Regions from separate parts of the Homo sapiens genome. Here all the other regions are linked to region 3. Evidence: fine-mapped expression QTL. A gene starts in region 3. Each other region holds a variant in brackets. All regions are shown on one strand. Distances are between the middles of the regions. Region 1 overlaps TIAM2 (TIAM Rac1 associated GEF 2). Region 2 overlaps TIAM2 (TIAM Rac1 associated GEF 2). Region 3 holds the start of TIAM2 (TIAM Rac1 associated GEF 2).

The links. PIP is the estimated chance that this variant, and not a neighbour inherited with it, causes the effect.
Region 1: its variant is fine-mapped to the expression of TIAM2 in neutrophils (BLUEPRINT, PIP 0.95).
Region 2: its variant is fine-mapped to the expression of TIAM2 in whole blood (TOPMed, PIP above 0.99).

What each region holds. Positions count from the first base shown.
Region 1 is chr6:155,243,713-155,247,872 of GRCh38, reverse strand. TIAM2 (TIAM Rac1 associated GEF 2) reads right to left here. Exons shown (of 27, transcript NM_012454.4): 17 at 3,794-3,862; 18 at 3,090-3,215; 19 at 2,142-2,250. It also overlaps a transcript of TFB1M not described here. Among named protein-coding and RNA genes, the nearest start is that of CLDN20, 18 kb to the left of the region's middle. RefSeq lists an enhancer at 1-538. The variant AC/C (reference allele first, on the strand shown) is at 1,803.
Region 2 is chr6:155,219,812-155,223,971 of GRCh38, reverse strand. The region is part of intron 15 of TIAM2 (TIAM Rac1 associated GEF 2); the gene reads right to left. Among named protein-coding and RNA genes, the nearest start is that of CLDN20, 42 kb to the left of the region's middle. RefSeq lists enhancers at 1-218, 3,028-3,527. The variant A/G (reference allele first, on the strand shown) is at 2,504.
Region 3 is chr6:154,993,148-154,997,307 of GRCh38, reverse strand. TIAM2 (TIAM Rac1 associated GEF 2) reads right to left here and starts at 1,993. Exons shown (of 27, transcript NM_012454.4): 1 at 1,816-1,993. RefSeq lists enhancers at 886-1,491, 1,492-2,099 and silencers at 1,736-1,815, 1,906-2,045.

The DNA of each region.
Region 1 (4,160 bases), 250 kb before region 3:
CCAACACATCAGTGGGTCAGGCACCCAGCTGTCAGCGTGGGATTCCGCCTCACAGCCCTGACAGAGCCCTGGAGTGCTGGGAGCTTCCGAGGATGGAATGCAGGCTGCGCCCCAAAGACTAACACTGACTCAAAATGCAGGAATGTCTGACTTTAAAGACACATTTCATGCATACCCATGAGAAATATTGTTATAGGTGGCCTAAAAAGTGAGTTTCAAACAATTCATTAAAAGCCATGAAGCGTGGCCAGGTGCGGTGGCTCACGCCCGTAATCCCAGCACTTTGGGAGGCTGAGGCGGGCAGATCACCTGAGGTCACGAGTTCGAGACCAGCCTGGCCAACATGGTGAAACCCGTCTCTACTAAAAATACAAAAATTCGCCGGGCGTGGTGGTGGGCGCCTCTAATCCCAGCTACTCAGGAGGCTGAGGGAGGAGAATCACCTGAACTCCTGAGGTGGAGGGTGCAGTGAGCCAAGATCGCGCCACTGCACTCCAGCCTAGGCAACAAAGTGAGACTCCATCTCAAAAAAAACAACATCAAAAAAGCCATTAAGCAATGTTATCCAGACCCTACACCATACCCACAAAAATTTCATAAAGGAAAATAAACCAGTGTTTTTCCCACTGGCCTCACTCTAGTTGTTGCTTATTTGTATTCTGTACACTTAAGGGTTATCTGGAAAGCAGTGTCTTTTCTCCTGTAAAGTAAGGTGACAGGCACCACAGCCTGCAGCCTACAGCCTTCACTCCACAGCTCCAAGCAGATTCACCTTTCGCATACCTAGAGCCACAGCTCCCTTCCAACAGGCATGGCAGTAGGACCCTCTCTGGCAGTGAAAACTGCCCCTTTGTCTGAGTGCCATGAAGGGTGTGTGTAGGAATCCAGGTGCATTTGGTTTGGGTACCAGCGGATACACCAGTGCTACTTGGATTCCACCAGTTGGCACTGGATGCCCAGTTGCTTGGAATGCAGCTACTCTGAAGGAAGATACACCCTTATTTGGGATTGTGTTGTAAGATCAAAATCTACAACATTCTAGGAGATGCAATACCATTTTGAATGTGATTACCAGGCCAAGTAGGTGGTGACAGGACCCCTCTTCTTTATGACAAAGGAGGAATGGAGCAAGCCATTGGTATGCTTTCACTGTACTGCACTGACTGTCAATATGTATTGACAAGTACATTGGTATGCTTTCACTGTACTACAGACTGTCAATACAAAGGTGCTTGTGGGCCAGGCGTGGTGGCTCATGCCTATAATCCCAGCACTTTGGGAGGCCTAGATAGGAGGATCACTTGAGGCCAGGAGCTTGAGACCAGCCTGGGCAACACAGTGAGACCCATTTCTACGAACATTTTTACATTTTTAAAATTAATTAATTAAATTTAATTAAAAAGAGGGTGTTTGTGGGAGGAAATGGCAACAGAGTTCAGCAACTGTCTAAAGCAACTGGAGAAGATGGATTTGGGCTGGGTCTTGCTCATTTGAAGCACTCTAAGACCCCACTTTTTAAATGTGGGGCTTTTCTTCTGGGATATCATGACGTTCTGGATTAAAATCCAATGGCAGAGCTGCATCCGTGGACATGAATGAGCACTAAGGGCGTCAGGATAAACCTCCAGATGCCCTCCAGGCCCACGCAGAGAGAAACACCGAAGAGCAACCTTTGGGAAATGTGAGCTCTTTCCAGTTGCACCAGAGAGACTTTACTTTCAGCTGACACACTTCTTGTGAGTTTCGTGGTAGGCTGTTGTGGCTCCTCAGGCTTAAGAAGATTAACAAGGAAAAAAAAAAAA[AC/C]ACCATAGCATGCATTTCTTTCTACTCCCATCTAGGGTTTGGGGTTGCAAGTTTTTAGAGAAAGGAATTTGGCAAGAAAAGAATCCAGATGTAACTGACAGCAAAGTGACACATGGCAAAGCAACATCTCTGCTCTTAGGCATACTTGTTCCCAGCTACTAATTAACTGACAGAAACAGAAACCTTTCCCTTTAATATTTGCCACTGTCAAGGTCAAGGATGGACCTTAATACATCAAAATTGTACTTACTCTCTACTTGTTAAATACAGATTTACCCTTTACTAACAGTTAAAAATGCAAAAAAAAAAAAAAACTATAAAAGGCATAAGCAACTTACCTCGCTCCAGAACCTTCTGTACTTTGATATGGTTAGCACAGAATCCACTGTACAGTTTAAAGTGGTCCGCGTAATAAAGGAAAGAGCCTCCAAGGGAAAACAGTAATTTCTAGAAGGGCAGAGGGGAAAGTCAAATCAGACATGGTTTAATCAATGCGTGCTGGCTTATGGCATTTGACGGCCCCATGGCTTCTGTCAGATTCCATAGCACTAATGCCTTGGAGAAGTTCAAACCTGCTCCATCCACACAGGAGGTGGGGAACAGCCCAGGCGCTCCCCTGGCAGGTATCTAGCTTGACTGCAAAGTTTCCAGCGGCAGAGCCTACTGACAGTGTGCAATCCAAGGACAAGAAACAAAGAAAGTTCTACAAAAATACAGCTGACAAGGTGGGATATAAACAATCTGAGAGAGGTTCACTAATAAAGCCGACTCTGCATTGCTTGGGGAGAGTGATGCTGTCTGTATGGTTCCAGGTCCCCTTGGAGGGGCTTCCTGCCACACTGCGGCTTACACGGATGCTATGGAGCACTGGTGCTTCATAGAAGAGAGGGCTTGAGCCCAGCAATTAGAAACCTATTCTCTTAATCCCAGATCCACATGACCACGGGGAAGAAGGATTGGGCACAGGGTAGGAGCTCTGGTTTCAGAAGCAACCACCTTGGATATCCTTCACAGCAGCTGAGAAAAGAGCACGTACGTGGTCAACAACCAGGCGGGAGGTGCTGCTGGACTTCTGACTACCAAAAGCACCTGCGCCAGGAAAAAAAAATATATACAGCCTTCCTTTACCACCTGACAGAGGAAAACGGTGCAAGGAAATAGTCACAGGACAATAAATAGTCAATAGTCACAGGACAAGAAATTCTTTCTCATGAGAGAATTCTCATGAGAGAAATACGTACCATAGCCACGTATTTTTACTTTAAGCCTAAATCTGAGATACTTACTCTAAACTGTGAGGGGGTTTCTAGGGTGTTAAAGTCAGATGATGCTGAAATCCCATCCTCCAGGGTCTCCAGAAACACCTTCTGAAACTCAAGCATCTCTGGCAAACTTCCAAAAAGTGACTCCATCTATGTGAAGATCAGGATTTGAAATGAGGGGATTAGCCATGAAGTTCAGGACACCACGCTAACTCTTAGGCCCACAAATAAATCACAAGGAAATTCTTCACGGAAAAGCAGACAGAAAGTAAATCCTTTAAGAAGACAGCACATTCATTATGGGATATGGCTTATACATAGAAAGTTTCACAGCTCCATCCCCCATAATTCTCTATTACTACAGTAAATTTTTAAGTGGATGTAAAATTCTCAGAATTCAAATTAAGAAAAATGTAAGTCAGTAGAACTAATTATGTGGTTTCACATTACAAAGGTATGTATTGAAAAGGAATTTCTGATCACACTCTCTTCTACCTCAAAAAGACCATAACCGTCCCTCTGCCTTTGTAAACACTCTGCCACTGGGTCATGCAGCCGAGGCCACAGCAGTGGTTTAGGAGGAGGCTATGCCTGGGACTCTCAGAAGACCGTTAAGTCTTGGGATGTTCTTTTGGGATCAACAGAGATACTCTCATAGGAGTTCTGCTAAAAGGCAAACAGAGACTAACCTGTGGATCACTGGACAGAAGGAAGGTGATTTTATTTACCTCATCTTGGGTAAGAAAGGTCTCATTCTGAAGTGGCTCCAAGTATAATTCAAAGAGGCAGCTCAAATCCTGAAAGAAAATAGAAGAAAGTGTCTTCAACGCTTTAGTCTCCAAAATACCCATGAGATTTGGGTAGCAGCAACCTGGCAGCAGCTCCCAAGGCTCCCATCAGGATAATGAAGTTTATGCCTTGTTGAAATTCTTTTTTTTTTTTTTTTTTTTTTTTTTTTTTTGAGACGGAGTCTTGCTCTGTCACCCAGGCTGGAGTGCAGTGGCATGATCTCAGCTCACTGCAACCTCTGCCTCCTGGGTTCAAGAGATTCCCCTGCCTCAGCCTCCCACATAGCTGGGACTACAGGTGTGCTCC
Region 2 (4,160 bases), 230 kb before region 3:
GATGAGATTCCAGGCACCCACACAGTGGCAAGCCAAAATTAGATAGTAATTGTGCCTATTACTTCTTTAAAAGAAAAAGGGCGAACGACAACAAGGGCTTAGCTAATTTGCTGACATGGAAAGGGGAAGGGTGAAATTCACTGGCAACGCCCTTGCCGGGGAACACAGGAGCCACAGCCACCTGAGCGTCCCTTACGCTGAGCATAAAAAACACCCCTCCTAGTCCATCAGACAGCTATTTATTTTACTAAAGAGATCCATAAAAGTTTGGTTTGGGATCAAAATGTTAAAATTCTTACTCCAAAAAAAAACCCATTTTGTTCACTAATGATAGAAAATAAAACTTTCAAAATGCCAAAACATCCCAGCACGTAATGCTGCGATTGGTGTTTAACAACCTGGGTTTGCATCCATTGAAGTGCAGAGTAAAAAAAAAAAAAAAAAGAAAAAAAAATCTGGGGATGTCTAACCACCATCATCAATATAATCTATTCTGGTCTCAACCTAATAATTTATTTGCCATCTAGGGGTTGTTATTTATTTAACGTTCCTCAACATCTCTTAGCACATTAAAAAAATAAAGCATTAATAGCTAATCTCACCCAAGCAATTAGACTAAGATAAAAACAAAGTTCAAAATATCACTTGACTATATAAACACAGTGCTGTTCATATTGCAGGTACTTGATAACTGATTCTGCAATATCAATAATATTAAGACACAGGCTAGGCTATTCAGATGTTTACTCAAAGTAAGGATCACAAACTGACGGTTCATAAATTCCTAACAGGGAAAGCTGTGAATAAACATCGTAAGACTGGGGAGCTCCCTGGAATTGTCTGCAATTTCTAACGTATGTGCATAAGCAATCTTCTGGGGACCCATAGCTTTCCTCAGATTCTCAAATGGTCTGCTTGAAATAAGTTCCTAAATAACGTAAGTGCATAAAAGAGCAGAGAGCATCTGGAAATACGGTATCTAACCATCCTGACCTTCGCATACCATTACCTGAGAAGCCTCCAAAAATCTTACAGGTTTTAGCTTCAATGAAATGCATGAAGGACAATAAACGACCGAAGCAAATTCTAATAGGGTTCTGCTAAGATTCTTCTTCTAAGCAGCTCTCCATATTCATGGGGATAAAAAGGGATATCTAGCAGAAAGCTGCTTTGGATCAGGCATTCAGGCAGAAAGACAGACAGGGAGAGACATCAGGGCAGGACAGCTGGTCAGACGGACCCTTGAGTTTCACAGATAGGGAAGTTTGACAACTTACCCAAGGATGAAGAAACGGCTCCTCAGTGTAAGACTTAGGGCAAAAAACCCATGGTTTTTTTTGTGTTTTTTTTTTTTGTTTGTTTTTTGTTTTTGAAACAGAGTCTTGCTCTGTCATCCAGGTTGGAGTACAGTGGTGCAGTCTTGGCTCACTGCAACCTCTGCCTCCTGGGCTTAAGCAGTTCTCATGCCTCAGCCTCCCGAGTAGCTGGGATTACAGGAACGAGCCACAATGCCTATCTAATTTTTGTATTTTTAGTAGAGATAGGGTCACACCATGTTGGCCAGGCTGGTCTTGAGCTCCTGGCCTCAAGTGATCCACCAGCCTCAACCTCCCAAAGTGCTGGGACTACAGGCGTGAGCCACGCCCACCCAACCCATGTGTTCTTACTCCGAGTGTACCCCATGTCGAGGTGGCTTCCCCAAAGAATAGGCAAGAACAGGCCGGGTGTGGTGGCTCACGCCTGTAATCCCAACACTTTGGGAGGCTGAAGAGTGTGGATCACCTGAGGTCAGGAGTTTGAGACCAGCCTGGCTAACATAGTGAAACCCCGTCTCTAGTAAAAATACAAAAATTAGCTGGGCATGGTGGCGTGCACCTGTGGTCCCAGGTACTGAGGAGGCTGAGGCATAAGAATTGCTTGAACCCGGGAGGCAGAGGCTACAGTGAACCAAGATCGCGCCACTGCACTCCAGCCTGGGCAACAAAGTGAGACTCCCTCTCAAAAAAACAAAAATAAATAAATAAATAAGAAGAAGAATAGGCAAGAACCTGCAAATGGTATTTACACTGAGGCTAGTTTGGCCTGAGAAATCAAACTTCCTGCTTTCTTCTCCCACAGAAAGCAAAATTATATCAAGGTCTCCATAGCTCCATCTCTAATTCAGAAGCCCAGAAAGGAAATAAAGATCTGGAAATAGAGGGCTGAGGGGCATGGAGAGGGAAGATGGAAGAAAGAGGACAGACATGGGACACTTGCCGTTCAACCCCATCTTCACTGTCATCCAGGTGGACAAAATTAAAGGGGAGACCTCAAGCAGCTCTGGCAAGAGGTCCCTTACGACCACCTAAGTTGCAGGGAGCTGGCTGATGACTCCTTGAACTTGGCTTTCTGTTTGCCTTGAAAAGGTCAAACATATCCCACTTCAAGTGTCATCTCAGACAGGATGAGAGCAAAACCATGGCACCCGCTGTTTCAATGGAGAGAAAAAGGAGAAGCCTGTATC[A/G]GAAATAAACGTGGCAAATAAAGCATTAGGTGAAGATCAGCATCTCTGCTCAGTCAAATCTTTGTGTGGCCTCAGCTCTGAGTAGTCTCCAAGTCACTTTCCTGTGCATCACTGTCCCAGCAGGATGAGGAACGGGAGTGTCATTATCTCTTCAGCAAGTTAATTTCAGAGCCAGCATTCCACCTGACAGGCCCTGATCCTCCAGCCCACCCCAGCGCAGTGATTCACACTGCAGCTCTCACAGCGCTGCTCTCTAAAACTTCTCTTTTTTACTTCTTTATTTTGTGATTCTGAAGATGACTCTGAATAATAACTTGTGTTTTTTTTTGTTTTTTTTTTTTTCAAAAAAAAAAAAAAACAAGATGAAAGAGAAAAGTCTGGAAAAGAAGAAAGCAGGGACAGAGGAAGGCAGGTAGGAAAGTACTGTGGCACAGAAAACAGCAGGGGAAAGAACCAAACACCACATGTCTCGTAAGTGGAAGCTGAACAATGAGAACCATGGACACAGGGAGGGGAACATCACACACCGGGGCCTGTAGTGGAGGTGGGGAGCTAGGAGACGGATAGCGTCAGGAGAAATACCTAAGGTAGATGATGGGTTGATGGGTGCAGCAAACCAGCGTGGCACATGTATACCTATGTAACAAACCTGCACATTCTGCACATGTATCCCAGAACTTAAAGTATAATAATAATTTTAAAAAGAGGTAAGACACGCTTGATTATTTTCTATAACTTCAAGTTTAAAACGATGTCTTCTTTTTGTCCCTAGTTTGTAATGCAAATCCCTATTTTTTCATTAAACTCTTCTCTGCCAAAAAAAAAGAGGCTGGGAAGCCAGTTGTGCTGACGAAAGTGCCTCAGTGATCCAAAGACAGAAAGGAAAGGGGAAGAAGGGCAATTGGTGACCTCCCTGCATCCTTCCAACCTCACTGTGTGCTAGGTGCCATCATCCTTACTTTCCAGATCAGGATCAGGAGACACAAGCACTGGTGGGGCCAGGCTGGCCCAGGGCTCCTGGGGTTCTTACTGTGCAGCCCGCCAGGCCTCCAGACCAGCCTCGCCAGGCTCAAGTCCCCCTGCCTTGCATGATACTCTGCTCCTAGACATACGTGTATTCCATGTTTAATAGAGAAAACACAGGCCCTCTGCCACAGCTGCAGGCAGACTCTGAGCCCCAGCCAAAGTCTCGTTCAATAACTCAACACCCCATGTCTGAGTTTTAAAAGCCTGCCTGGCAAAGGCACAGCCAGCTGAGGACTCATCAGGCAACTTCCTGTTGCTGGCAATTTCTCTTTGGCCCCAGTTAGCCCACAGCACAGACCATGCCAACAGCCCCACTGCCCACTTTTTAGTTTGCCTCTGTCCAAGGACCCACTTGGCAGGAGGAATCAGCCCAGCTGACGGGAAGGGCCAGTTGCAAGAAATGGCGAGAAAGGTCACCAGCAAGTTTCTTCCCACTGCCTTCCTGCCACGCTCTGTTGTTCATCCCTCTCTACAGGACAAGCTCTCCATTGCCAAAGGGCCTTCCAGGCAGCCACTTGCTTGGAACGCTGTCTTTTGGATTCTCAATACCACTCTTTTTTTTTTTCCTGTTTTTCCTGTTGACACGTAAGTGACATTGCCAACCCTGTTGAACAGAGCGTGTAAGTTATCC
Region 3 (4,160 bases):
CTGACTACTGGAGGAGGAGGAGCTTAACTTCGCCTACGGATAAGGAAGAAAAGCTTCCTAGAGAAGGTATTTGACTGACACATTAAGAATGCGTGGGTAATTGACAGATGGGCAAGAGGAGTAAGAACAGTGTAAGCAGAATTTCATTCATTCCAAACAATGGTCTGGAAATAACAACTTCTGAGTAGCTTGGTGTGTCTAGAGCAGGCAGTGTGCAAGCGGGGGAGAGCCAGGAGGCCTGGGGAAAGTCAGTAGATGGAACTGGAAAGGCAGGCAGGTGCCACATTATGAAGCATCTTAGTATGGTATGTGAAGGTGTTGAAAGCTGATTCTGAGGTCATTAGGGGCGTGTTTTGCCACAGTAAATAATAAACTCTTCTTCAGTTATACCTTGCCATGTTCTTTTACATTTACCCAACACAAAAACCTCTGACACCCTAAAGCAACAAGTTTTATTTTCCTATAAAGTGAGCAGGTAAAATCCGGTGGAACAAAAGTTTGCTTACAAAACTGCACCAATCATGATACTATATTTTTAAAACATAACAATCTTAAGCACATCAGGAAATACTTCTAAGAGTGTATACACACAAGTTCTACTGGTTAAGCCCAAATTATAAAACCATGGACACTTTTTTATCCAGAGCCTAGGACTGAAACATTTATAGCATATGATCCGCACCTGTACGAAACTTGGTAAGATTTTAGAGACACTCTGGCTTAAATCTATTGGAAAGAGAACTGGAGATAGCCGGTGTTGTCTGTTAAAATAAGGTGGTCAGCATCATTTGGGGAGCAAAAGGTAGAATGTGTGAATAACCATGAGAAGAGAATCCCAGGCCCTTCATCGCATAGTAAATAAAGGTCTCACCATTACCCAAGGAGGCTGAGGAGTGTCACCAAGTGGCCTCTTGCCTGAATTCTGCAGAGAAAAGCAGGAAAACCTCCCCCTGAATGAAATTATCTTTGGAATCAAGCAGCCTTCTCCCTCTTTAAATAAAGTTAACCTATTTGTCTATTTTAAAAAAACGGCATGCAAGCTCATCAATATTAAATTTCGCCGCTCCTTAAAGATAGAAATACCTCGTGCAATGTTACTCCCAGACCTTTCCAGCGGCTGTCAGCAACGAATGGCTGGAAGAATGGACTCTTTTCTTTCTGAACTGTTTTTGGTAAATAGGATCCATTAGGGGCACAACGTGTCGGCTTTCACAGAAACTTGGCACCTCAGCCCCCCCAGGAGCCGCGCCCGTCCGGGATGGCTCCCGCGCTCGGAAAGGCCGGAGGGGCTGAGCAGGGACCGCACGGTCTACACTCGCTGAGCCGACCGCCTGGGATCCTGCTTCGCCGCAGCGCCTTTCTGAGGCTCCGAGGTCGCCGGGCGGGCGTGGGCGCAGCGGGCGCTCCCCTCCGGGCACCCACGGCTCGGCTTTGGGCGAGAACCTCGGTATCAGGAGGCCGGGGCGCCGCCTCCTCCCATCCGGGATGGGACCGGGGCTGAAAGTGGGTCCTGGCGTGTCGCGCAGCGCGAGGGGACCAGGGGACCTAGTTTCAGAGCCTTCTGGAAAGTGCTTCGTCCCCCGTGCCAGGCTGTGCCCGGACGCTGCCGCCCTCCGGGGAGAGGGTGCCAGGCCGCGCCCCGCAGCCGCGACCTTCCGCGGGACTCCCAGGAAAGCGGGGGCAGAGAGGGGCGGCCAACAAAGGGGAAGGGAGGGGACCGCCGGCCGCGCGCCGCCCCGCCCGCAGGGGACCTGGAGCCGCCGCCAACCAGCGCGGGTCGTCGCCCTCCTGCGCCCTCACCCGGGCGCCCCTTACCTCGGGTCGCGCGCCGGGCTCGGTGGGGCCGGTCGCGCGCCGCCCTCCGCTACCCTCGGCGCGTGGCCCTCGCGGGAACGCCGGGAGGAGTTGGAGAAGTTCTGGGGGTCACTTTGTTCTCCACTTGGACGCGCGCTGTGCGCCTGCGGCGGCCGCGGCCACAGTTACGGTTACCGCTGCCCCAGCCCCGCGCGCAGCGCCTGCCAGGCCCGAGCCGCGACCGCACCTCCCGCCCCGCCCCGCCCCGGACACGCCCCAGCCCCGCCCAGCGTCAGGCCCAGGACCCCCGCGCCAGCTCCCGGCTGGTCCCGGACCATGTCCCTCGCGCTTTCTTTGGAACAACACAAATAAAACAATTCAAGAAACATCGAGCACGCGCTCACTGTGAGCTGGGGGCTCTGCCCGCTACCGGGGATGCGATGCGCCAGTGCGACCCCGTCCCTTCCCCAAGGAATTTAAAGACGGCTCTTCCCGGGTCCCACCGAGGAAAGGCACGCAAAACTGAGGTCAGCGGCCGCAGAGACTTTCCATCTCCTTCCCCTTCTGAGAGGAGATGGCTTCGCAGCGGAGATGGCAATCGAGTCGGCACTCCAAGACCCAGTCGAATTGGGACTTTCCAGGTGGAGAAGCTGCGATTTTTATTATTATTTTTTCAGACTGAGTTTCGCTCTTGTTGCCCAGGCTGGAGTGCAATGGCGTGATCTCGGCTCACCGCAACCTCCGCCTCCTGGGTTGAAGCGATTCTCCTGCCTCAGCCTCCCGAGTAGCTGGGACTACAGGCACGCGCCACCACGCCCGGCTAATTTTGTATTTTTAGTAGAGATGGGGGTTTCATCATGTTAGTCAGGCTGGTCTCGAACTCCCGACCTCAGGTGATCCACCCGCCTCGGCCTCCCAAAGTGCTGGGCTTACAGGCGTGAGCCACCGCACTGGGCCAAAGCTGCGATTTTTATTAGAAAAGCCTGAGTGGCCCAGTGGGCCCAGATGCTGGGAAGGGCGAGGGAGCTAAGGAGACCCAGGAATGAAAGCTGCCTGGAATCACTCTCCTCGCCTTGAAAAAGGCTGCACCCTGGAGAGGAGAGGGAAGGGAAGGTAGATGCAGGCCATGTGTTAGGGTGGGTCCTACGAGAAGCAGCGCCCACTCAGGACTAGATGCGGAGGGTTTTCTTGGGGGAAATGGCCGTGGAACTAAATGAGGAGGGAGCCGTGAGAGCTGGAGAGGGCCGGACCTTCTGCAAATCAGAGCCCAAGTGAAGGAGGGAGGGAAGCACCCATCCCGGCCTCCCTGCAGTCTAAGAAAAGCTCAGCAAGATCATCCGTGAGCCCTTCAGCCAAAATTACGCATCATGGGGATCCCGATTCTCCCCGGAACCTGCCTGCCTTCGTGTCCATGCCGCCACCAGTCCTTGGCTGGGAGCGGCCAGGTGGGAAGGGTGGCGTTGGGCACAATCCCAGTGCTGGAGTTCAGAGCACAGCAGCCAGGGCCCTGGTCAGTTAGGTGCAGTGCGTGAATACGACCCAGTCTCCGTAACGGGAGATCCGTGGAGAACTGTGAGTCAAAAAGACAAATGAAATCAGCTTTCCCACAACACACCCAGTATCAAAAGGAAGCCTCCAGGCTTTGCGGGGATCGGACAGACCTGCTCTCCACCCTCAACCACCACAGGCTCTGTACACACCGAACTAGTAGTGACTGGCCCCTCCCACTCTGTAGGCCCTCCCCTGGTCTTGTCTGCATCTTTGCGCACTTGGCTCTGCCTAGGAAAATATCTTCCCACTCCACTCACTCTTCCATGCTCAATTCAAGCATCACCTCCAAAGACCTTTTCTTCCTTGACATTTATTTACTGTTTTGTGGGTGGGGTGGGGGGGGGCGGTGCTTGCTTTGTTTTGAGATGGAGTCTGTCTCTGTCGCCCAGGCTGGAGTGCAGCGGCACGATCTCAGCTCGCTCAACCTCCACCTCCCGGGTTCAAGTGATCCTGCCTCAGCCTCCCAAGTAGCTGGGACTACAGGCATGCACCGCCACACCCAGATAATTTCTGTACTGTTAGTAGACACGGAGTTTCACCATGTTGGCCAGGCTGGTCTCGAACCCCTGACCTCTAGTGATCTGCCCACAGCCTCCCAAAGTGTTGGGATTAGGGTGTGAGCCATGGCGCCCGGCCAACACTTATTTACTTCTTACTTCTGACTCACACCTACCACACTGAGACGGGGGGTGGGGGGGTGCTGGTATGTGTTTATTTTTCTTGCTTCTTTTATTGCATTTTTCGCACTATTTTAAAATATTTTTCTGATTATAAAAGTAACATGTTTGTTGTACAAACTTGAAAAAATATATAGA